2 separate regions of the Homo sapiens genome follow, and region 1 is linked to region 2. The links come from fine-mapping of genetic effects on gene expression. A gene starts in region 2. The other region holds a variant in brackets. All regions are shown on one strand. Distances are from middle to middle. Region 1 overlaps CAPZB (capping actin protein of muscle Z-line subunit beta). Region 2 holds the start of SLC66A1 (solute carrier family 66 member 1).

The links. PIP is the estimated chance that this variant, and not a neighbour inherited with it, causes the effect.
Region 1: its variant is fine-mapped to the expression of SLC66A1 in whole blood (INTERVAL, PIP above 0.99).

What each region holds. Positions count from the first base shown.
Region 1 is chr1:19,385,255-19,401,486 of GRCh38, forward strand. CAPZB (capping actin protein of muscle Z-line subunit beta) reads right to left here. Exons shown (of 9, transcript NM_004930.5): 3 at 251-372. Among named protein-coding and RNA genes, the nearest start is that of SLC66A1, 81 kb to the left of the region's middle. RefSeq lists enhancers at 6,199-6,248, 7,781-7,920, 15,927-16,232. The variant G/A (reference allele first, on the strand shown) is at 8,344.
Region 2 is chr1:19,306,215-19,315,701 of GRCh38, forward strand. It overlaps SLC66A1 (solute carrier family 66 member 1), which reads left to right and starts at 6,112. Exons shown (of 8, transcript NM_001040125.2): 1 at 6,112-6,675. AKR7A2 (aldo-keto reductase family 7 member A2) reads right to left here and starts at 5,930. Exons shown (of 7, transcript NM_003689.4): 1 at 5,613-5,930; 2 at 2,241-2,428; 3 at 1,944-2,048; 4 at 1,100-1,196; 5 at 788-887. The coding sequence starts at 5,910. RefSeq lists enhancers at 5,521-6,020, 9,235-9,487 and silencers at 5,612-6,251, 6,332-6,421.

The DNA.
Region 1 (16,232 bases), 82 kb after region 2:
GCTGCTCTATCTCTCATGCTTGTGGGTGGCACTCTTCAAACGTCTGCTGCATGATTGGAATAACAGATGGAACGATGAGAAGAATGGGGAGGACAAGAGAAGAAAGGAGAGGAGGGCAGGGAACAAACGGAAGGAAAGCTGAATGGGCTGCCAGCTGCCCAAGTCCAAGGTCCCCGTGCTCTGCAGCAGGTACCTACGGCAGCCCGCGTGTGCCTGCTGTGCCTGCTGCATCCCCGGGGCATGAGCTCACCTATAGGAGTCCCCATCTCTGTTGTAGTCACACAAAAGGTAATCCTTTCCCACCACCTTGTCTCTGGCAATTTTCAGTGGCTGGTCAACAGAAGACAGGAGATCCTCACATAGACTGGGGACCTGGCAGAGAGAAAGGACAAGGTCGAAACAGAGGTTAAAACAGCACACCAAACTCAGGTGGCTAACAATACTGCAGCCATATTGTGGTCAGTACCTTTAACATCTGGCCCTGGGCACTGAGACAAAATTATGGGCCTGTTCTTTTCTTTTCCACATGTGTCTGACACCAACTGTGTCCCTCTATAAAGAAACCCATTCTTGAATTACAGTGGAGCGTGATTTCTAATACAGTCTTCCTTCCAAAAACTGTGTGCAGCTTTAATTACCTGGTCACCAGGGTGGCCTAGTAAATTTAAGTGTGTATGTGCTTGGTATTGGTCTCTGGTGGGCAAAGTACAAGCTGAAGTCCCGAGAAGAAGGTAAACATTTCAAATACACAGGAATCTAAAGAACTCGGAGTAGAAAAACTCGTCCGTGCCGGGAACTCCCACAGGCTCCTATGCTGGGTGGAGTCTCCAGTACTTTCCAGGCCCCTAGCCAAGTGTTACCAGTTGGCTTGTAGAGTCAACTCTATCTGCTGCAAAGAGAGCTTCACCCCGGCTCCCCCACAGCACAGAGCCCCAGTGGGCTCACCTCCGGCTGGCCTGCCAGGGGGCCGCCTCACCAAGAAAGATGACCCCGCGGTCGGGGGCTGGCAGGACTCAAACTCTGGGCCAATGTTGCGACTCTGACACAAGGCTCTGCAAGTAACCAGGCCACTGGCCTCCTCCTCCCAACTCAAACATCAATTTCTACCAAAATATCCCAGAAAGGGATGGCAGCACTTTCAGAAATGGATTCCTTCAGGCCTGAGTCACTTCCACGCTATATTTTCAATGTGCTGACTTATTTGTTTCATGGGCCTGGGTTTATGGGGGCTCCACCATATCGTTTACCAGGAAAGTGCCTGCCAGTTGCACCAATAACCCTTCCCAGTGGAAAAATTCCATCGTATGGCAAAGACACCAGCAGAGCAGCTCAGCAGACGGGCTGACAGCGACAGTGGTTCCTGTGTTCTTCCAGAAGGCCCTTGCCACCATCCAAGAGACAGGCAGGGACAGGGAGTCCCACCACCACAGGGACCACCCAGCCTCCACGGGCTCCTCTGCTGCCCCTCCAGGGTGCTTTAGAACTCAGCTTGGAAAGCAACGCCCAGCACAACTAAAGGACTGTAACCCTGCCTCATAACTCACAGAAATTCTGGCCTTGGTGAGATGATCTGTTTCTTATACAGGGGACAGTACCCAAAGAGATAGACATACACCACCAACCCCTGTGTACAATGTGCTGGGCTTACAGGTGTGAGCCCCCAGGCCTGGCCTGTACCTGTGCTTGTTTTCAGAATTCTTTCTCCATGTGTATCTGCCCTTTCCTAACAAACATAATAAAAATGGGGGCTACTTTCAAAGTTGGTTTTGGTGATAATATCATGCACCTTACCATTTCCATGTGCCTGCCATGCACCACGCACTATGGTAGAGCATATTGTTGACTTGAAAGCTCACACGCATTCTGCAAAGTGGGTATGCAAAGCCCCATTTTACAGATTAGAGTTGAGGCCGGGAGCCATAAAGTTACCCAAGGGCCACACAAGAAGCAAGCAGTGGAGACAGAAAACAAAACCAGGGCCAGATGAGTCCAAAGTCCCTACTCCTCCTACTCTAACTTTGGTTTAATGTCCAGCTAAGGGGAAGGACAGTGCATGCTAAAGGCACCCTCTGGTGGCAAACAGCCCTCTCCTAGCCCCAGCCCTGCTTAGCTGTGGCCACAGAGCCCTTCAACTGGAAGGAAGTCCTGGCTGAGGAAGGAAGGTCTAACAGCTTCCACCCGAGGCCATCTGGGACCTGAAAGAGGCCTTGCTGTGCTGCCACAGCCAATGAAGCCACCTCACCTAACACATCATGCCTGTCCCTAAGCATCTCTGTTTATAATGCTGGGATGCTGCCTTGGCTTATCTGTTGGGCCTCAACTTTTGCCTGGAACCCATTCTCTCTGGTTGGAGTCCTGACACCATCAGCTCAATTTTTCCTCAATTACAGTAGAGACTGAGCAAACAGGGTCTGAAGTTAGACCTCCTGACTCCGCTGCGTACAAGTAGCCTTATGGCCTGGGTAAGTCATTTTACTTCTCTACTAAGACTTGGTTTCCGTACCTGTAAAATGGGGATAATAAAACCAACCCATCTGGGTGCCCATGCCCATGTGATTTTGAGGACCCACATGACACAATGCATTCCGTGTTCAGGGCAGAGCCTGGCACAGGGAAATGCACGTATGTTACTGCCTGACACGTTCAGGTTCCTTTCCCTTCCTTTAGACAATATCATCTGTCACCTGTTACTCTCAGATGGCAACAATAGCCTGGATCATACCTGAATTCACTGTGCTGCTTCAGACACAGGGTACAAACGTACCTGTGAGGATCCGGTGCTTCACCCCAGTTCCACCTGGAGCCAGCTGTTTCCCTTCTCCTGCCAGGCACACTGCTTGCAGCTAAGTCCCCTCAACGTAGGAAAGCTCACAAGAAAATAGGGTTTGGTATAAAAGAGGCTTGACTCTACTCCTATCCAAGAGATTCATCTATGAATCGAAAGCATCTGAGTAATCTCTTCCTAGCACTTAACACCAGGTGGAGTATTTTTTCATTGATCAGTTATCTGTATCCCTCACTAGAATGTAAGTTTTACTGGGGCAAGGACTTCGATCTTACTCACTGCAGGATTCTCAGTGCCTGTGGCTGTGCCTGACACACAGCAAATGCTTAATATATTTGGGAGGAAGGAAAGAAAGGAGGGAAAGAGGGAGGAAAGGAGGAGTTTTACAACACGGAGCCTCCCAAACTCCAATCAACTTTACTTTAAAATTAATAAATTGGCAGGTAATAGGAATCTTTAGCAAAAGCACTTGTCCAGAACTAAATCTGAATGGATGCTGATGACAAGTTTCCTGTGTGGTTCCAACCCAGCACTCTCAGATATGAACCATGGTATGGTGGGAAAGCACTGAACAAAGAGAACCGGAGCTGTCATGAAAGCCCTGGCATTTTTTATTAACATATGACCTCAAGGAGCCACAGCATTGGTGGAAAGAGTGAGAACTAAGAGACCTGGGTTCTAGCCTCTGCTCTGCTGTGAGCTGGCCACGGAACCTTAGGCAAAGCCCAAGACTGTTCATTTGTCAAACACAGTAGATGAGCTGCACGGAGACAGACCACCCTTGAAGATCTGTGATGGGACTTCTGAAAGCCAGTATGCCAGGTACTAACCAACCCCAGAAAAACATACATTTAAACTGGAACTCAAAAACTGGCACTGCTTGTCCTACAGTGAAAAGCCTCTGGGACTTGATATGGCCAACGGACTCCACCCAAGCAGGCACCATTTTTGCCTTTTGGATCAACTCTTAAGCTGGGCCATAGTTTTGGCCATATTTCCATCAGCGCTGTTTCTTTTGATCAAAGATAATCTGCTCTGGAATAATAACATTTTCGTTGTCATGGGGAATGAGAAATGTGGAATAATACATGGTGTGCCCACAGACTTGGACCACAGCAGCTGCCCAAAGGTGCATTAGTCACGACCTGGCACCATCACTGATCCCGTCTCATACCCACGCCGTCCCTCCACCTCTGCCCGAAACTCCTCAAACAACCACACGGTCCCATTCACCACTCCCTGAACATGCACGTGCATTCCCCCACTTAAACATCTTCCCCATTGAGGGTTGCTGGATAAAACAGAGGGAGGCCAGTTCAGTCTGAATTTCAGATACACAATGAATAACATTTTAGTATGACTACTTCCTAAAGGTTACATGGGTCGTGTGTTTTTTTTTTCTCAATGAGATGGAGTCCAGCTCTGTCACCCAGGCTGGAGTGCAGTGGCGCGATCTCGGCTCACTGCAAGCTCCGCCTCCCAGGTTCATGCCATTCTCCTGCCTCAGCCTCCCGAGTAGCTGGGATTACAGGTGTGTGCCACCACGCCCAGCTAATTTTTCTATTTTTAGTAAAGATGGGGTTTCACCACGTTAGCCAGGATGGTCTCTATCTCCTAACCTCATGATCCACCCACCTCGGCCACCCAAAGTGCTAGGATTACAGGTGTGAGCCACTGCGCCTGGCCAGGCCATGTATTTTTATTTGCTAAATCTGACAGCCAATCCCCACTGCTCTCTTAAATCTTACTGATCCTTCAGGGCCTGGCCCAAACTCCAACTTCTTTATCAAGATGTCAAATTCTTCAGAATTCCTGCAGTAACACTAATATCAACTGAATCCTAAATGCTTTGGGGATGGCTGTTCTAATACTGCCAATGACTTTCACCTTACTCCTTCCTCACCACTTAGCATTTTTCATTGTGAATTGACTCCACACCTACAGAGGCCAAGACAGGCCCTCCAGCCTCAGCGCAGCATCACGCCCGCTGCAGCAGGGATCAGTCAATGCATGCTGATTCCATGTAAGTGGATATTAATCCTGTGGTCTGAGGCCATATTACAGAACCAGAATGAAGGCAGTGTATCTCTGTAATCTAACCAGTCCCTACACTCATCTGAACCCCGGCCCCCGCCCCCTACTCATGTCGAGTGCTTAGAGCAGTGGAAGAAATCACATTAAGTGTCACAGACCATGGGTTTGTACAGTGATTTAAATGAAACGACAGGTCCAAACAAAGCCGAGAGTTCACTTTGGGGTGCATGTGGCACTGGCTCTGTCGCCTCCAAAGCCAGGGAGGGCCTCTGAGGAGGAGGAGCGGTGCTGACACGCGGCAGCCGGATGGTTTCTGTCTAAACCACCCATCTGAACTGCCTAACGGCCTTGGAGGGAAGGTTCAGATAACACCAAAGGTGTCAGACCAATCCAGGCTGTTGGGGGGATTTAAACATAATTCCCAGTGACTTGGAATAATAAACACTACACTGGTCAGGACAGTGCCTGCCGTCTTTCTGGTGGGAGTTCAGGGCTCCACCAGTTCCTCTGCTGCCACAGGAGTGTGCCCACCCCAGGGAGCAGGAGCCACAAGTCCTTCACCACCGATACTTTTGCCGGGCTCGGTGGTACCCAGGAGGCCACTGGAAAGACGGGTGGGGAGTGGGTAAAGTGAACTAGGGCAGGGAAAAGAAAAAACCCCAGAAGGTAGAAGGTAAGGGAGAGACTAGGATGCCATTGGCAACGGCCTCAGGTGACACCTGAATAATAATCCGTGGAAGGACCAGGTGATCGTAATAGCCCTGCCCTGCGTGGCAGGCACTATGCTAGCAGCTCTCCCTGCCCTTCCCTATGATCCTGACAATGGCTCTTCACACAGACACGCACTCCAGTCCTTGTTTTAAAGAAGGGGAAACAGGGCCTTAGAGAAATAACTTGACCGGAGCCACGCAGCTACGGGCCAATGTCTGAGGAAGGACATGCAGTTATATACAGCACAGCTAGGTTCAAAAAGAAACTGCTTTTCCCAAACTGAACACTTTTTTTTTTTCTTAAATCATCCAACCCAACAGCTGATCACACGAAGAGATACAAATCAGAAGTTTCCGGCCACAAGTGAGGTTCGTGTTTGTGCCGCCATATGGTTCTACTTTGCCTCTTCCTCTTCTCCATTAGTTATTAATGTTGAAAAAAATTGTTCAACCAGAAAAAGAAACTTGAGATGAACCCTTAAAAAAAGCACAAAAGCCAGAGCAGCTCAGACCCACGGAGTCTAACCCACGGCGCCCTTGTCTTTAAGAAGTGCACCCTTGTACCTCGGTTTTTTAAAAAATGGCCAAATGAACACATTCCATCTTTTGATCTGCCTGTTGGCCGAGAGCCCACCACCAGCAAGATAGGAATCAAAAACAGATTCTGCGTACTTGGGTGCACTCAGAGGAAACTGCCACGCCAGAATGCTGCAGCTGCCGACGTCCAGCAGAGGGCTCTGTGACAATTTGTTCCTTTTATTTTTCCAGAAGGCCCAAAACTTTCTTAAAAAGATAAAAGAGCATTTCAAGTGGCACATACACTCGTGTCAGAAACAAAATATACAGTGTGGCATTCTGTAAAAACACCAACCTCGAAACCGAACAGGTTCAAATCCTCGGTCAGTCACTTGCTGGCTGAGTGTAACCTTCCTAAGTCTCTGGAACTGGGGGTTACAACATCCATGTCAAGGAGAAATTCACACTGTTCCATAAACCCCGAATGCCCGCTCCAGGCCCGTGTCAGGTGCAAGGGCTCAGCACGGGAAGAGATGGACATGGGCGGCCCTGCTCTGACAGCAAAGTCCAGCCACAGAGGCATCTCCAAGAGGCAAGGGTAGGCCAGGCATGGTGGCTCACGCCTGTAACCAGCACTTTGGGAGGCTGAGGAGGGTGGATCACTTGAGTTCAGGAGTTCAAGACCAGCCTGGCCAATGTGGCAAAACCCCATCTCTACTAAAAATATACAAAAATTAGCCAGGTGTGGTGGTGCATGCCTATAATCCCAGCTACTCAGGAGGCCGAAGCAGGAGAATCACTTGAATCTGGGAGATAGAGGTTGCCGTGAGCCAAGACTGTGTCACTGCACTGTAGCCTGTGCGACACAGAGAGACTCTGTCTCAAGGTAAAAAAAAAAAAAAAAAAAGAGGCAGGAAGCGAACCTGCAGGAGACGACAGAAGGGGGTTGCTGTGGGGGCAAGTCAGCAGTCTAGGAGGTGGCACAGAGATGACATGTGAATAATGACCAAGGAGCCGGCCCTCCAAGACTGCAGGGAAAAATAACAGGGGCATCCCAAGAAGAGGGAAGAGCTGGCATGAGGCTCTGCTGCAGAGGCCACTGAGGCAAGTGCAAGAACAGAGAGGAGCAAAGCGCGGCTGGAGTGAGACCCAGTGAGGCAGCACGCAGCACCTCCTGGGTCACTCCAAGTGTGAGGGCAGGCCCTGGCACACTGCTTTTCTTAAGAATTAAAAAAAAAAAAAAAAAAAGGCCAGCTGCGGTGGCTCGCTTGAGATCAAGAGTTCGAGACCAGCCTGGGCAACAGGGCAAGACTCCGTCCCTACTAAAATAATAATAATAAAAATAGCCAGGCATGGTGGCATGTTCCTGTAGTCCCAGCTACTCAGGAGGCTAGGGTGGGAGGATTGTTTGAACCCGGGAAGTCGAGGCTGCAGTGAGCCGTGTTTGCACCACAGTACTCCAGCCTGGGTGACAGAGTAAGAACCTGACTCAAGAAAAAAAGTGTTTACTTATGTATAATAGGTAATACATTCACATAGGTCAGAATTCAAAAAGGTACAAGAGCACATGCTGGGAAAGGCCTCCCAGTGAGGGCCTGCAAGCTGGCTGTCCTCGCCTAGGGAGATGGCCTCCAGGTCAGGATCCCTTCAGTGGGGCTCCCTTCACCGGTCTGTCCAGATGGACACATGGCCTCCACCAGCCTATGAGAGATGCAGGAATCCCCACCCCACCACCACTACTTAGTGTAGAGAAAACACAAGCCTGCTCCCCAACTCCCCAAGGGCAGCTTCGTTACAGGGACCCCAGTTTGTCATTAGGAACACTGAGCCACGGAAGCACAGCTTCATGTAGCCGAGGCTGGAGCTTCCGACCCATTTTGCCTAATGGCTCTCTGAGCATGGCCACCTCTGCAATGAGAAGGCACCTGCACAGGCGGCAGCTTCGCGCCGGGCCTGAAAGTCACACCCGGGTGGCCAAGCTTGTTTTTGGACGGGAAGCAGCTGTGCTCCCAGAGACTCAGGCAAGTGGTACCCCTGAGTAACCAGAGGGGGACCCCAGGGGCTCCCGCTCACCCCAGGAAGCATCAAAACATATCTCCTTAGGATAATAGCCACGTGAGCTAGGGTATGGCGCACCTATTCGGAGGCAGGATTGAGGGCACCCCCCAACCTGTGGATGAGAAAACCCAGGCACGGGGAAGCTGCTGGCCCCGGCTGTCCCAGCCAACACGAGGTGGAGAGGAATGAGAATCTCAATTTGAGACTGACCCAGCTCTTCCAAAGACCAGGCCCCACCGG[G/A]TCAACAAGGCGAGCTGCCCCCATCCCCAGTCAGGCTCAGGGGACAGGGGAGGAAAAAAGAATAGAATTGGGGGAATTATGGGACTGTGAGGACCAAAGCTTTTTCCCCCAAGTGCCCGGTCACGGCAGACCCAAGGTGCCTGGGGTCGCCTGGGAAGGGCTGCAGGGCTGGGCTCTCCTGCCCCTCACCACAGCCCACAGCCCACAGCAGATCCGACATGTGACCTTTCCACTCTGGGCCTCGGGGACTCCTGGCGTGTGGGCAGGGGCTCAGTGCCTACTGCCCAGCAGAGCCTAGTGAGAAACTGGCCCCCCGCCTGCCAGGGCCACACACAAGAGGACACTTCCAGGTCCAGCCTCTCTCCTCTTTAAGAAGTCACTTGGCGCTGAGGGCCATATTTTTTTGTTTTGTTTTGTTTTTGAGACGAAGTCTCGCTCTGTTGCCCAGGCTGGAGTGCAGTGGCGCGATCTCGGCTCACTGCAACCTCTGCCTCCCAGGTTCAAGTGATTCTCCTGCCTCAGCCTCATGAGTAGCTGGGATTATAAGTGTGCACCACCATGCCCAGCTAATTTTTATATGTTTATAGAGATGGGGTTTCACCATGTTGGCCAGGTTGGTCTCAGGTGATCCGTCCTCCTTGCCCTCTCAAAGTGCTGGGATTACAGGCATGAGCCACCGCGCCTGGCCAAGGGCCATATTCTTTAAGTGCAAGCACAGCCTGCTTTCTTCCTGTGAAGGCTGTAAGTTGTAAGATGCACCAGTAATTATAACATCGCTAAGTGTACACATTAAGTGTAAGAAGCAATTTCCCAATTTTGGCAACATTAAAACGCAAGCGATGGCTGGGCACAGTGGCTCACGCCTGTAATCCCAGCACTCTGGGAGGCTGAGGTGGGCGGATCACCTGAGGTCAGGAGTTTGAGACCAACCTGGCCAACATAGTGAAACGCTGTTTCTACTAAAAATACAAAAATTAGCCGGGCGTGGTGGCGCAGGCCTGTAATCAGCTACTTGGGAGGCTGAGGCAGAATTGCTTGAATCCAGGAGGCGGAGGTTGCAGTGAGCAGAGATCGCGCCACAGCACTTCAGCCTGGGTGACAGAGCAAGACTCTGTCTCAAAATACAAAACAAAACAAAACAAACAAACAAAAAAAGTGAGCAAGCCACGCAACATAGATTTGAGATAATGGTACATACAGCACATCTGGCGGAGTAACACAGATGTTTCTGACTTAAGATTTTTTTGATTCTGCGATAGTATTCAGTAGAAGCTGTAGTTTGAATTTTGATCTTTTCCTGGGCTAGCGATGCACGGTCTGATCCTCCCTCATGACGCAGGGAGACAGCAGCTCCCACAGCTCCCCACAAGCCCTGTGATCAAAAAGGTGAGCGATGACACTCTACAGCCACCGCGCGCCAGGTGCTTTCACCAAACTGTAGGTGTGTTCTGAGCACATTTAGGGTCAGCCAGCCTAAGCCACGACGCTTGGCAGGTTAGGGGGATTAAAAGCATTTTCTACTTCCAGTGGATTTTTCGTCACGTAACCCCTTCGAGGGTGCAGCAGCATCTGTACCTGCTCATATGAGGCACATGACTCAAGGCGGGGGTTGTGGTTGGTTACCTAGGGTTTAATACAACTGAGGCTGGCCGAGAGGGCCAACATTAGGAAGCCATTTTTGACCAACAAATGATTTATTCTACTTAGAAATGAGTCTTCCACATGCCATTAACAACAAAGAGCTTTTTCAGGAAACGGTAAGTCCCCTCCATCTCTTTCTTTTCTCAGACAGGTGCCCTGACCATCCAGAGATAAATAATAAACAAAAGCAGGCCTCCTGGGCTCGCTTTCAGCCATTCATACTCCAAACCCCAAAGCTTTGCCCTCTGGAATCTCACAGCCTGGAAGGGGCCACAACGGTTTCCTAAAGAAAGGGTCAGGAAGGGGCAGAACAAAGAAGACAAATGGAAAGGAGAAATGAAAATCACTACATTTGGGTCAACCACAGGCACACACAAGGCTCCTGTTGTCCACATGTAACCTTAAGCTTCCCTGAAGGGGATGAACCAGGCCCTCGGAGCCTAATTAAATGAACCATTTCCTGGCCAGGCACACAACCCATCACCTGTGTGCAGAGAAGCCAGGGTCTCTCTAAGCTCCCGGCTGCTTTTAATTAAGGACTCGTCCCTGAGAGATGAAGCACAACATACAAAACCACCTTCGAGTCACCAGAATGGAAGTCATCTTGGACTTAGTGCTGAGAACTGCCTGCAGCCGGCCAGCCAGCCGGCAGGAGAAGCTGCCGCCTACAGCCAGGCGATGGCCTCAGGCTAAGGAGCACAGGGAGGCTCCCCTGACTCAGGCTTGCCCCACACCCAGCATCCTGCATGTCTATCCAGACCACCTTTCTTCCCCGTGTTCCACCTAAGTCATCCTTCAGGGTCTGATTCGGCCACGCCTGCCTCTTCCACTGCAACCTCCCAAAGCCGCGACGGCAGAGGCCGTTGCCCCGCCTCTACTCCTGCACCCTGTGCAGGATGCGGTCTTGAGCCTCACAGGTTTGTGACATGCATGTGTCTCCCCAGGGCAGTGATGAGCTGTCTGGACGGCCTCATGCCCGGCTTGATGCTGGCAGGACTTCTGAAGCGTTGGTGGGATGGTGTGGGATGGTGGAAAACTAGGGCCACTTGGGTCAGGTTCTGATCTTTTGAAGCCCAAGCCTGCCTTGGTGGGAAGCAAGTTCTCAGCACTCTTCAGCACCTCCCTTAAAGGAGGGACTATTCTTCGGTGAGTGGGAGACAGACCGAAACTTGACGTGGATGGCATTTCATCTTCCTGACTGCCAGCCCTGAGTTGGATGAAGGTGTGCACCCACTGGGCGTGGGCTGCCGCCTGCTGTGGAGCTGCCGCTGCCCCTCGTACCCTACACAGGCTCCTCCTAAAGCCAGACCCGCAGCCTTCCCAGCATGAAGGCAAGCACGGGGTAGCTGCTGTTCTCTTCCCGGACGGTCCTCAGTCCTCGGTCCAGCTTTCTCAGTCCACATTTTTATTAAGGATTATTGGCCAGACGCAGTGGCTCATGCCTGTAATCCCAGCACTTTGGGAGGCCGAGGCAGGAGGATCACTTGAGGCCAGGAGTTCGAGACCAGCCTGACCAACACGGTGAAACCCCACCTCTAATAAAAATACAAAAAAAAAAAAAAAAAGAAATTAGGCACTGTGGCGAGCACCTGTAATCCCAGCTACTCAGGAGACTAAGGGAGGAGAATCGCTTGAACCTGGGAGGCGGAGGGTGCAGTGAGCCGAGATGGCGCCACTACACTCCAGCCTGGGTGACAGAGAGGACTCTGTCTCAAAAAATTAAAAAAAAAAAGATTATCGTATTGGCTTGTATTCTTCTGTCACCTGAAATCTTTTTGGGAAAAGACCAGGTAAAAATACACAAACATAACTCATATATAAGTTGATTTTTCTCCAAAGACACTGTAATTTCACAGAGGATCTCTGTCCTCTCGTTTAAGTGAAAAGATACATAGTGAAACCAAATTTTTGTTCTCGTCAACATTTTAATGAAACATTATTCAAGGGCCTGCTGTAGGTCATAATTCCCAAGAACCTATGGACAACATTAAGTGAGGACTTACTGAACTATCAAAGTTATGATTGGAATAACAGCAAAGATGTTTAGGTCTTACCATTTAAAAGGCATGTAACACACATCCTCATTTTATCATCACAGCAACCCTGCAGAAGGCAGGGGTGTTATTATCCCACATTACTGTTTACAGGTGAAAAAAAGAGGCACAGGTAGGTTAAGCAACTTGGCTATGGTCACACAGCAGGTAATTCAATGAAAGCCATGCGATCCCACCCTAAGGCCGTGCGGACTCTAGAATGACACCTGGTGAGTAACCTAGCAGGCAAAATAATTCAGCTGAAAGAGTCACCAGCTGGATGGTGGCAGAGAGAAGTACTTGGCAAGATTGGTTTTTCACACAAGGTCAACGCGAACGGAACCTCTCATACCAGCCACCTACTAGGGTACAGCATCAAGACCTAATTTCAGGGAGGGAAATGGGAAATGCATCCATTTCATCATCACTGGATACTAAGGGTTAGGCCTGGCCTCAGGCTTTATAAACCACATGTGTGCCAAATGTCCACGTCTAAACCTAGAGTTTAGGGTGAAAACTATGAATGGGCTACCATGGAAGTTACAAAATAAGAATGCAGGGGGAAGCCTGAGGGCGCGCGCCACCCGAATGCGGGAGGAGCCAGATGGGGCAGCATAGGAAGGGCTGTTCTTTACCACTGATCTGGGGGGCTCATGATCGCCCAGAGGGACAGACCAACAGCATCGGGGTCTGTGGGTTGATATTCATCTGCACGTCGACACTGGTGGGGATGCCAGGGAAATCTCACATGTTCTGTTTAGCAGAAACGAGACACCTGAGGCAGAAAGTGACAATAAGGAGTCACACGGCCAGGCAACCATGGGCAATGGCAACGCAGGGGATACTTTAGAATCTGAAAGCCTGTGAAACACCCTCAAGTCCGAGAGGATCTGCTCCATGATGAGGAACTCCGTGACCTCCAGGGCCCACACACGGAGGTGAGCCACAGTCATCCTGCCACACCTGCTCAGTCTCCCGATGAGCCAGGCGAGGTGCTGAGCCCTGTACTCCTCGCCCCAGGGGTCCTGATAGCCCCTTGGGAGGCGAATGACCTTTGAAGCCACAGCAGAGGCTGACCAGCTCAGAGCACGGAGCCACTGAGTCAGAGGGCGGAGGTCTGGCTTCCTCCAACAGATTCTCCAAAAATCCTCACGATCACAAGCTTCTAAACCTCCATGACCTACCATGATTCCAGTAATACTTCTGTTTCCCTTCAAGTGGGAGTGTTTGTGCCATGTTTACGTGTCTGAGTGGGGGAGCGGGTGCTAAGGCAGACTCAACAAGTCGGGTTGCTTCGCTGTTCTCAGCACAAAAGTCACCCAGGCTGTCTGGCCACAATGTTTCACACTGGATTCCTTCCACTGGAGGGATGTCTCATCAGGTTTTGCTGTAATTTCACTGAGTCACCCATAGAAACGACCAAGCAGGGGAGACTGGAGGGGACATCTCCAGGGGGCCACATCTGAGCTGAGTTACAGAAAGTGAGGCAGGGCTGGCAGTTAGGGCAGGTCGCAAAGCAGCCCAAGGACTAAGGTGCAGACAGAGAGCATCTCTGTCTGTCAAAGGCAGACAGCGTGGGATGCCGAATGCTGATAGCTGCACAACTCTTTTTTTTTTTTTTTGTCACCCAGGCTGCAGTGCAATGGAGCGATCTCGAGTACCGCAACCTCCGCCTCCCAGGTTCAAGCAAGTCTCCTGCCTCAGCCTCCCGAGTAGCTGGGACTACAGGTGCTTGCCACCATGCTTGGCTAATTTTTTTATTTTTTAGTAGAGACAGGGTTTCACCATGTTGGTCAGGCTGGTCTTGAACTCCTGGACTCAAGTGATCCGCCTGTCTTGCCCTCCCGAAGTGCTGGGATTACAGGCATGAGCCACCATGCCCAGCTAGCTGCACAACTCTTGCGTGTGCTAAAAACCATTGGACCGTACACTTTAAAAGTGTAAATGTTATGTTATGTGAATTATATCTCCAGAAAGCTGTTGTTAAGAAGGTGAATCAAGAGAGGATATTTTAGGCAGAGAGAACCACATGGATCCAAGACATCACAGGTAGACATCCAGGAAACCAACAGTTTCAGAATACGAGTACGTCATGTGACCCAGAGTTAGGTTGGTAAAAAGTGACCCTGGGTGTCAGGAACCATGGGCAGTGTTGTCTTTCTCCTCACTCTCAGTCGTAGCTGTTTGACTCTTCACTCTTACTACCCAGAGCTTTTCCTACATCAAAATAAACCAAGGTACTGCAGGGACTTGCCACTGGCCTGGAAGTCAGAGCTGGTTCTGCCATGAAACGGTGCTACATGGGGCATGGGCCACAGCTCCCTGGTCTCTGCAATGGATGGTTCTCTGAGAGAGGAGCACTTTGAGGGCTGTGAGTACAGAGGGAGGAGCTCAGGGTGTCAAGAGTGGGAGAGGAAGTCTGGGCCTACCACCTTCTACCTGGTTTATTCAAGTTCTAAGATTTTGCTTAAAAAAAGGGCTGTACCAATTTTCCAAATGTTTGAAAACCACTAGATGAGATAATCGGTAAGGTTCATTTTAGTGTTGACATCCTACGAAGTTTCATAGTTCAAGACTTGAGAGTTACTCAAAAGTTTGTGTCATCCCTCCTAAAACAAACCTTTACTAAGCAAGGTACTCTGAGGCTCAAACCAACTGTGGACTGCCCAGCTCTTCGGTTCACAGCCTTAGGACACAGATGCAAGCAGCTGAGTGAGTTATTCACAAGAAGGGGAAGAAGGAAAAGGCTTGGAACCCATAATCTTCTCCCCTGAATGCCATGTTCAAATTTAAACTCTTAGGGAATTTCTATATTTGTATACAGAATCCAAATTCCCTTCTCTTTTCTCTTCCAGGAGAGATTCCGAGCCCACCCCTTGCCTGCCTCCGAGACCTCAACACCATCCTGCTTACTAAAGGGAGCCCAGTTTTTCCCGCTACCCATGGCACAGGTCTTCGTCAATTTCAGTGTGCCCTTCATGAATCTGGCATGTGGTCACTGGCAGTTAAAGGGGGTGATGATGGAGAGGAGAAACCCCAGGCTCCAACTACAAAACCCTGCGGGACACGCAGGCTCCTCTGGGCTTCCCGGCCCACATTCCTGGCCTATTTCAAACATCAGGGAAGCAGACTGAGCGTGCCATGCCCTCCTCAAGTATTTTTAACCTGTTTCCAAAACCAGACATGTTCTAAGGGGGGCGACCCAGGAATTCCTCATCCAGGGCCAGTGCCTGCCAACCGCGAGATGTTGGCTTTCTAACAGCTCTGAGGAGGGAGTTGTTGTCTGCCTTTTCTGGCACGTGGGGAAGTGGGATCTCTCTCCAATTCACTTTTACGTCTCACATTTCTCATCAACCAGAGGGCAGGATCTAACTTAAAGTGAGAGTCTTCAGACCATCCTCAATGGAAGCTCTCCAAACACTGTTCTCCGGCTTCCAACAACAACAGGAGTCCATAAGGTTCCCCAAATGAAGGACCTGGATAGATCTTGTAGGAAAAAAAATCCTATGAGGACAAGGCCAAGGAACGGGCCTATATGCACTTCACTTGAATTATGCCTCCTGGCTCTAGGTGACAAGAGCCATCTTTTTCACCACTGGAGAGCTCAGCCTCCTACCACCTTGCCCCGATCCTGACCTGGTTCAGATTCCTCGCTAACATACTTCTCTCACCTTGTAGCACTGTTGCACATTGAACAGGAGGGAAAAGCTCTTTTGTTCATTTTCCTTAGAATGGAACCAAAATGATACTCCAGTAGCTCCATCTAAAAGCTCAAGTGGCAGCTAACAGCACGGACACCAGGGGCATCCCTTGCCAGCTTCCAATGCCATGGTGAGAGACACTCATCATGGTTTAAAAAAAGACCAGAGAGCATTTTCACAAGCAATTCCTAAGAGACTTAAATTTCCTACACATAGGCAGAATAAAAACCAAAAAGGAAAAAAAAAAAACTTCCCCCAAACAAAAGTGAGGGCTTTCAAGGAGACTTGCTGAGTGGGCAAACATTTTGGAAAGATGGAATTTTAAACACAAACACAAAAGGGCAAAGATTTGCAGCAGAAGAGCTATGCACACAGCCGGGAGGACTTTAATTAGGGAAAGCTTTGCAAAGCCCAGGGAGCATCAGCATCGGCAAATCTCCCCTTGGTCTCCGGAATGGAAAGAATGTGGAAACCAATGGGTGATCAAGGAGTTCGAATTTTGCCTGACACTCTT
Region 2 (9,487 bases):
AGCCATCCAGGACCACTGCCCCACCCCACACCCTGCAGCCCTGAGGGGCGGGTGTCCTCTCTAGTCATAGGTCTCCCACTTTGCTGGGCATCAGAACCACCCAGGATGCTGGGCCCCTCAGCAGAGACCTCAATGGATCTTTACTCCTGAGGACTCAGTAGCCTAGGGACTTCCCTAGGGACACGAAGGCTGCTCAGATGGGGCAGGATTCCCTCCTGGGCTCTCTTTTTGCTTTTTGATACATGGTCTTACTCTGTTGCCTACACTGGAGTGCAGTGGCATCATTATGGCTCACTGCAGCCTCAACCTCTTAGACTCAAGTAATCCTCCTGCCTCAGCCTTCCAAGTAGCTGGGCTACAGACAGGTGTGCACCACCACACCTGACCACTTTTTTGCATTTTTTTTTTGTAGAGACCATGTTGCCCAGGCTGGTCTTGAACTCATGAGCTCAAGTAACCCTCCCACTTCGGTGTCCCAAAGTGCTGGGATTACAGGTGTGAGCCACCATGCCTGGCCCATCCTGGGCTCGCTTTTTGCTTCCCAGCAGGTGATTGCTCAGGAACGAGCTATGACTTCAAGACCCCAACATCCAGGGATCCTCATTTCCCCCCCAGAGGTCTCAAGACAACAAGAAAACCCACAGAGGGCTTGGGAATTCCTGAAGCAATGCAGGGGAGGAGATGCAAACAGCAAAGGAAGGTCTTACCTCAGGAACAGCCCAGGACTTCATTCCACATAGATTTGACCCCACCCCAGCCATCCTCACCAAGCCCACCCCCGGCTCACCGATTCCTGTAGGTCTCAGCCCAGCTATTCCCAAAGAAGCGGCCCACAGGCTGTTTCCCGTCCTTGTCCTCATACTTGTACTTGCCAGTCAGCAGGCCCCCTGCGGGAAGGCAGCAATCAGCCCCTGGCCCCAGAGTGCCCCAGAAGCTGCCACATCCCTCAGGGCTCTGGTCTAGGGGAGGGGCAGGGACCCAGGAGGGGCTGAAGAACACAGCCCAGCCTCTTGTCAAACCCTCCCTGCTTCATAAATTCTGGGCTGGGCATCTGTGGGTCAGGAATAGGCTGAGACAGGGTCAGGAATGCTCCACGTACCAGCCAGAGGGTTGTAGGCATAGAACCTCAGTCCAAAGTGCCTGAGGCAGGGGAAGAGCTCCGTTTCCACCTGCCGGGTGGTGGCGTTGTACATGCCCTGCAGGGAGAGGGACCCCGGGGACAGGGTGGACATGTCAAGAGAAGGAACTGTTGCCTTCCACTTTCAAACCTCTAAAGCAACACCGGCCCAGGACTTCAGCAATATTCTAACATCACTACTGTTAGTAGGGGATGGAGGGAAGGTGTTGGGCCCAAGGACAGAAAATTGAAGTGGAATGGTATCTTTCCACAAATATCTGCTGTATGAACTCCATGCTGGACACTGGTTACAACCACAAGTAGGTATCACAAAATCCCTGCTTCCAGGAGATGTTTACTCAAGTTTAAAAAAATAGACAAGGAAGGCAGTTAATTACAATAAAGTTAGGTTCTACAATCAAACAAGGAGCTGGAAAGTACTCGCTGAATGTATGAAGATGAGATTTGGAGACTGGAGACTCCTATGGGGCTGTCTAGAAAGGCTTCCAGAGGAGGAGACCTCTATGTAAGGCCTGAGTGCTTCTCCCAGGGAGGAGGGCAGGGGAAATGTGTTCCAGGCTGAAGTATGAAAGGAGGTGGGGAAGGAAGGGTCCAAGGTGCACAGATAGGCAGGAAGGAAGCAGATGCCCAGTGGCCAGGCTGAGGAGCTTGAATGGCATCCTGAGGGTACATGGGAGCCATCTGCAGGCTTTCAGCAGGGGAGTGGCTGCTATGCAGACGGCACAGGGGGCAGTCAGGGGGGCAAAGAGAGCCCAGGATTAGCAGGAGTCCTGGAGACCTTGGCCTCTGCAGCCCCGGCCCTCACCTGGTACACAGTGGGCAGGATCCAGCCATTGCTCTTGCAGAGGGTACAGATCTCGGCCACTTCCCAGCTAGCATAGTTGGAGAGGCCAAGCTCCACGAACTTGCCCTGCATGGGTGAGGCTCCAGTCAGAACGCAGTGTAGCCCAGACCAGGAAGGGGAGGCCAGGGTGGGGCCCCAGGGAATGGGGCTATTCCCTGCCCCACCCTGGGACTGCCCTGGTGCCTCTGCTCTCATGAGTAGGATCAGGATAAAGAAAGGAGCAGGAGCCCACCTTTGGAGCTCGGAGGGCCCCCTCACCTCCTGGTGCAGCCGCTGGCAGGCATGCAGCGTCTCTTCCACCGGGGTGCCGTGGTCAGGTGCGTGTAGGTAGAAGAGGTCCACTTGGGGACACTGCAGCCTCTTCAATGACGTCTCCAGCTGGGACCGGACACTGTCAGGCTTTAGTGATTTTCCATCCCAAGGGTTGGCCTTGGTGGCAATTTTCACTTGGAGAGAGAATGGAATGGTTAAGTGACCTATTAGAGCCATTTGCTAACCATGTAACCCTGGCTAAATTACTAATATTCTCTTGGCCTCAATTGTATGATCTGTAAAATGGGGTGATAATAATCAAACTGTCCTCATTGGGAGGTCCTGGGGATTAAATAATGTCATATATGTGAGTTCTCAATGTTCACCTATTAGAATAACTATCATTAGTCACCAACCTGCTGGCTGTGCCAGGCCTTGCACTAGAGACTGAGTATGCAGAGATGAACTGAACACAATGGATCTCTGCCCTCCTGGAGCCCTAGAGGATGATGGTACAATATGGTAAGCACAGGAGGGAAAGGCACACGATGCCAAGGAGCCCAGATGAGATGCATGAAGCCAACTTGGAGACTCCAGGGAAGGCTTTCTCTAGGGGATCACTCCCAGAGTCCCAGCCAACAAGGAAGAGCAGGAAGTACACTCCAGAGCATGGGAACCCATGCAAAGTCAAAGAGGCAAAAAAACACTATGTGAGGCTCCAAACCTTCAAGTCTAAGTTATAAGAGCATAAATTCTAGAGCAAGGAGCAGTGGGACGTAGGACAAGAGACAGGGACAGACCTCATCCCAAAAGTTCTTAAATACCATCCCACTGAATCTGAACTTGATCATTCCAGATTTTGTCAGGGTGTGAACCGGTCACCTGTGTTCACACTTGGCTGCAGTATAGAGAAAGAAGTCAAGGGGGCAGGCCTGGAAGAGTTTAGGAAAGCGAAGCAGCCACATAAATGTGGCCCAGTGGTAGAGATCAACTTGAGAGCTTAGAAGGCAAACTGAGCAGAATGTAATTATAATTCTCCCCTCCCCTTCCTGACTCACAGAAGCATGAGCATATATCCAAACACTGTAGGGACACATCGCTATGACAACAGTGTTCTGCATCCGAGCAGCTTGGAAATGAGTTAATTCTGCACTATTCTTTCCCCTATAAAGAACCCCAGCTGTTGGTCCAGATGTAGTGGCTCAAGTCTGTAAACCTAGTTTGGGAGTACTTTGGGAGGCTGAGTAGGGAGAATTACTTGAGCCCAAGAGTTTGAGATAATCCTGGACAATGTAGCAAGACCCTCCCTCTACAAAAATAAAAATTAAAAAAGAACCCCAGCTGGGCCAGGAAAGGTAGCTCACGCCTGTAATCCCAGCACTTTCGGAGGCTGAAGTGGGTGGATCACCTGAGGTCAGGAGTTCGAGACCAGCCTTGGCCAACATGGTGAAACTCTGTCTCTACTAAAAATACAAAAATTAGCCAGGCGTGGTGGCACGTGCCTGTAACCCCAGCTACTTAGGAGGCTGAGGCAGGAGAATCACTTGAACCTGGGAGGCAGAGGTTGCAGTGAGTCCAGATTGTGCTACTGCACTCCAGCCTGGGCGACAGAGTGAGACTCTGTGTCAAAAAACAAAAAACAAAACAAAAAAAAAGAACCCCAGCTGTCTGGATTGGTTGGGGGATGGATTCTGCACTTTTCATACTTAGCAAAGTCAGCTCAGTAGCTCAGAAGGGTGTCACGAGATCAGTTGGGATATGGGACAGAACAAGTTCCACAGTTTCTCATCCAGATTTTCTCCATTTCCCCACAACGCCCCAGGCATTCTTGGCATGAACTGTGCCTCAGGCCTGGCCTGAGGACTTTGGTTCAGTGAGCTCCTGGCCCCAAAGACGGAAGCGGGGAAGGGTTAGAGAAGAAAAACCAACTCAGGAACAAAATCTTCATTATTAATAGTATGTAACGTGGCCGGGCGTGGTGGCTTACACCTATAATCCCAGCACTTTGGGAGGCTGAGGTGGGCAGATCACTTGAGGTCAGGAGTTGAAGACCAGCCTGGCCAATATGGTGAAACCCCATCTCTACTAAAAATACAAAAATTAGCTGGGCGTGGCCGTGTGCACCTGTAATCCCAGTTACTTGGGAGGCTGAGGCAGAGGTTGCAGTGAGCTGAGATCGTGCCATTGCACTCCACCCTGGGTGACAGAGCAAGATTCCGTCTCAAATAATAATAATAACAAAAACAACAACATGCAGCCAGGTGAACTAGAAACAGCGTGGGCCTGAGATTCACATTTGCCCTCTTTTCCCCCCGACCCCCCAAGCGCTATGACTCAGGAGGACCCAGAGAGAACCTCTCCTCAGGGGTGGGGAGCAACAGCCTCAGGATAGTCCAGTGGGTGAAGCATGGTAAGGGTAACAGCCCACGTTCCCTGGGCCCTCACTGAGTGCCAGGCACCCTCCCAAGGGCTATCAAGGGCACCAGGCTCACGAGGGACAGTCCCCTCCATCCTCCACTCAAGCCCCACCTGCCCAGTGGCCTTCCTTTCACACATCACGCACATTGCATTTCCAAACCAAGTCTTTGCACAGACTCTAATGTTCCTTTCTCTTGTTCTCCTCCAACCTACCATTGAGCCTTTAAGGCTGAGCTCCATCCAGCATTTGCTGAGCCTTCCCTAGTGCCTCTCCCCGGCCTGCAGCTCCCTAAAGTACTCTCTCTTCTGGGCTCTCCAGCAATCATTACTTCAATCTTCCTCATTAGACTCTGAACTCCCTGTGGAGGGCTGGAATCACTTTCCCTCCTATGGCCCCAAGTCAAAGCCTGGCATAGAGTGGATAGAAAGTCCCTACACCCTGACCCGTCCGCACTCCCTAACACTCCTACTCTCCCAGCCAGCCTTACGGCATCGCCACAGTTCTCCCTGAGAGAGGCAGAGGTACTGCCAGCTGCACAGGTCAAATTCTAGTGGTTAAGAAAAGGCCAGGATGAGAAAAGGGTGCCCAGGGTGTGCATGCGTGATGATGGTAACGAAGGGGTAGAGAAAAGGGGGAGAGCCTGGGTGGGGACCGGTTGTGGGCACCTGGCAGGTTTGGAGGCGGGGGCATCAATGGAGGTGGGAAGCGATGGGTCAGACCAGGCTGGGGGGAGACTCTCGCGCTGCAACTCCCAAGGGAAGGAGAGTGGGGGAAAGGAGTCAGGGCAAAGCACTGTCTAGTTGTCCCGGGGTTCCCAGAGCTGCGGGGTGGACCTGGGGTGGGGAGCGAGGGACGAATCCGTCGGTGCTGCCCGCGGCCGGGCCCGAGCGGGGTGGTGCACGGCTGGGGACAGGCTCAGCTCTACACGATGCATGGGGAGGATCTGCAGCTACTGTTACCTCTGCAGTCGCCACCGCCCAGCCCGAGCCCCAGGCCGCCCAGGATGGTCTCGGACTGGCCGTCGCTGTACATGAAGGCCGTGTCCAGTTCGGTGTGGCCGCGCTCCAGAAAGGCGCGCACGGCCGCGGCGCTGGCGGGCGCGTCCATGCGGCGCCCCATCTCCATGGTGCCCAGCACCGAGGCGACCCGCGGTGGCGGTGGCCGGGACATGGCGAGCGCGCGGGCCTCGGGCGGCGGAGAGCGAAGCGCGCAGTGGACGGCGGCGCGGGAGACTACGCGAGACGCGGCACTCAGCATAGCAGCGGCGCCTGCGCGTTGGGAGCCGGGGGCCCCGCCCATGCCGGGGAGGAGCGCGGAGGCAGTTGGGGGCGGGGACAACAGGCGCGGCCCCAGCGGCGCCTCCAGGCCCGGTCAGCCCAGCGCGCGGCGTGGGGGCGGGGCCTGCGGTTCCCGCGGGGGCGGTGGCGCGCGGTCAGCTGACCCGGCGGGCCTTGACCCAGAAGCTGGGCCCTGGCGGCGGATCTGGACGTGGTGAGCCGGACCGGGGGCAGGTGGCAAACTTCACGGCTGGGGGTCGGGGCTCCTGGGCTTCCCTGCCACATCCTTCCAGCCCTCTCCTCCGGCCGCTGGACTGTCCCGGCTCCTGCGCCCTCCTTGTGGCGCGATATCGTGGGACGAGGCTCCGGGCCGGGACTGGGTGGCCCTCGGGAATCCGCAGCCAGTGGCCCCCCACCTCAAAGGCGACCAGCGCGGCCTCTCGAGCTGGCCTGGCCAGGAGTTGCCCTGCCCCGGCCGACCGGCCCCTTGGCATCTGATGGCTTCGTTTTTCCCGGGCCGGCCGGGCGAGGGGCCCTCGCGGCGCTGGCCCCAGCAGCTGTCCTATCATTATCCCTCCAAACAGGCGGCCCGCGCCGGGCTGAGTCACCAGGAGGGAGCTGTGGCCGAGGACGCCGAGGCCTGGAGTGGGTGGTAGCCCCGAGCTGGGACGCTCCTCCCTCCACAATCTCCCCAGGTCTGCAGGGACCGAGGGCCTACACTGCCTCCTCCCACGCCGTGCTTAGGGTAGGTTTCCAAACGTGTAAATGGAGAGTCTGAGTCTGGAAGTGTGAGGGGTCCCGGGCCTGGGTCACAGGTCATGTCTAATCAACGCTTACTGAAGGCGCCTGTGTGCCCGGACGCTGGAGGGGCTACAATGAGAACAAATAATAGTCATTTTGGGCTGTTGGTGTTGAGTGCCAGTGCCAGGCACCCTTGTAATCGCTTGGCCTGGATTGTCTCATTTAACTCTGCAGTCAGCCTAGGTGGTGGGTATTGCATTATTCCCCTACTTTTCAGATGAGAACTACGAAGCTCAATCACTTGAGTTCCAGACTGGTAGGCATCGGGCAGGTCTGTTCCAGAGTGCTTTTCTCCTCAACCCTGGGCTGTTCGAGCTCACAGCTTTCTCCCCTTCCTTTCTCCTTTCCTTCCTCTTCTCTCTCTTCCACCCTTTCTCCTTTCTCACCCGTTTCCTCTCTTCTTCACTCTGTCCTTCTCTCTACCTCTCTCTTTCTCTCACTGTCTCTCAACATTTGCTGAACCTCTAGGTGTGTTTACACCTGGAGAATAAGAAATGCACAACCCAGGGTGGGGAGAGTACGTTTCAAAGACAGTGGTCGCAGAGGACGGTGGTAGCGTTCTTCAGGTGTGTGGACAAGGGGAGAGGAGGAGGTGGAAGGTCCTGTCCAGCCAGCTCTCATGGGGCATCTTTGAAAGGGCAATTTAGAAGTGAGTCTTCTTATCTCATGACCAGGCCCTTGAAGGGGAGCAGGACACTTCTAGGGGAAGAGATGGCACGTGCAGAAGCCTGGAGACCTGAAATGACTGAAGACGTGGGTCAGGAGGCAGGAGATAAGGTTGGGAGGGCAGTTCTTGGAGTAACTTGAGGCCTAGCCTCAGGTAATTTGGACTTCATCCTGTAGACAAAGGTGGACACATGATTGGCTGTGATCATGTGCCCGAAGCACCCTGACTCAGCTTGGGATCAGGGAGAGGAGTTTGGGTGTGGCAGGAGATGTCATCTCCAGCCCAACCTTTCTCAAAGTGCACTAGATGGAGCAGAATCGCTGGAGGGCTTCTTAAACCCAGAATCTCTAAGCCCCAGCCCAGGTGCACTGACTCCAAATTTTGAACATGCACCCTCCAAGGGTGATTCCAGGGTACCGCTTCTGGGGTCCTTCCCATCCCTGCAGGTGAGGTCAAGCTCCATTGCAACCTTGGACATCCATTTGCTCAGAGCTGTTTGAACAGGATGTGGGCCCATGCCTGGCTTCTAGGTGACAGGAACTACGCAGGATGGCCCTCAGAGCCAGGCCTTTCTGTTCAGGGATCAGGTGTGTCTCAGAGTGTCCCGAGCTCCACATTGCACATGGGTCCTGTCCAAGGTCAGGGGGACACCCACCCAGTATCCTGGATCCATAAACCAAGGTACCTTCCTCAAGACAACTCCCCAACACGCACGCATACTGGGGTGCATCCATTTCATTTCCTCCTTAACCTAGGGAAAGGGGGAAGTGAGAGAGAGGCCGCAGGGGCCATAAACCAAGGTACCTTCCTCGAGACAACCCCCCAACACACACATGCTGAGATGTGTCCATTTCATTTCCTCCCTAACCTGGGGAAAGGGGGAAATGAGAGGGAGAGTCCCCAAGGTGGTTGAGATGCTGGACTCTCATCCTGAAAACAGTCGCTGCCATGTGTTGTCAGGCACAGGGCTGAGAGCTTTATGTGCATTTAGTCAGGGCAGCTGCCCCAAGGAGTGAGTGTCGTTAGCCCCATTTTATGGACAGGCTCAGGCAGGTTAATTCACTTCCAGGGCTGCTCAGCCTCACCTGTCAAATGAGCACAGTATACCCAACCTTGCTGGGGAGTGGTGAGGATGGCAGTGGATGAGCTGCAGCCTTGTGTTCAGACTCTGCAAGGGGGTGTGGGGGTGCACCCCAGTTGGCAGTGGTGGCTGAGAACATGAGGACTTGATTTGAAATGCCTTTGGCCTTGCAAACGTGTAGTTCTCACCTGGACTATATGGTTTTTTTTTTGTTTGTTTGTGTTTTGTTTTGTTTTTGAGAGTCTTGCTCTGTCACCCAGTTGGAGTGCAATGGCGCGATCTCAGCTCACTGCAACCTCTGCCTCCTGGGTTCAAGTGATTCTCCTGCCTCAGCCTCCTGAGTAGCTGGGATTACAGGCACGCACCCACCACGCCTGGCTAATTTTTGTATTTTTGATAGAGATGGTGTTTCACCATGTTGGCCAGGCTGTTCTCCAGCTCCTGAGCTCAAGTGATCCAACTGCCTTGGCCTCCCAAAGTGCTGGGATTACAGGTGTGAACCACTGCGCCCGGCCACACCTGGACTATATGTTAATTTGGAGTGGCCTTTCAGGGGCCGGAGATGGAGCATCAGGTGAAGGCTTCCAACATCATCTGTGCTGATGGTCCCCCAGGTGGGCCACGAAGACACAGGGAAGAGGCTTTCAGCCTCCCTGCCTGTGCCAGGCCCTGGAGGTAGTCCAGTGAGCTGGGCTGACAGTGACCTGGGGCACCCTTACCTTTAGGTCCAGGGTCTCTGCCCACAGCGAGTCACATTAGGGCTGAGGGTCTACGGCTTCCTGAGAGGAGGTGCTGACTCACTTCCTTTCCCTCCCGGTGCTCCCTGGTCTCTGTGTCCTCAGCAGTTCCGTGGGGCCAGCCAGGGACTAGCTGGGGAGCCCAGGCCTCCTGACACAAGTGGGAATGAAGGCAGCTAGAGACAGCCCCCACCTGGATGAGGAAATCCCCTCTGAGCACAGGGAAAAAAGAGGAAGCCCACTTTCTGGCTGTGCAGTCATGCCAGACCAC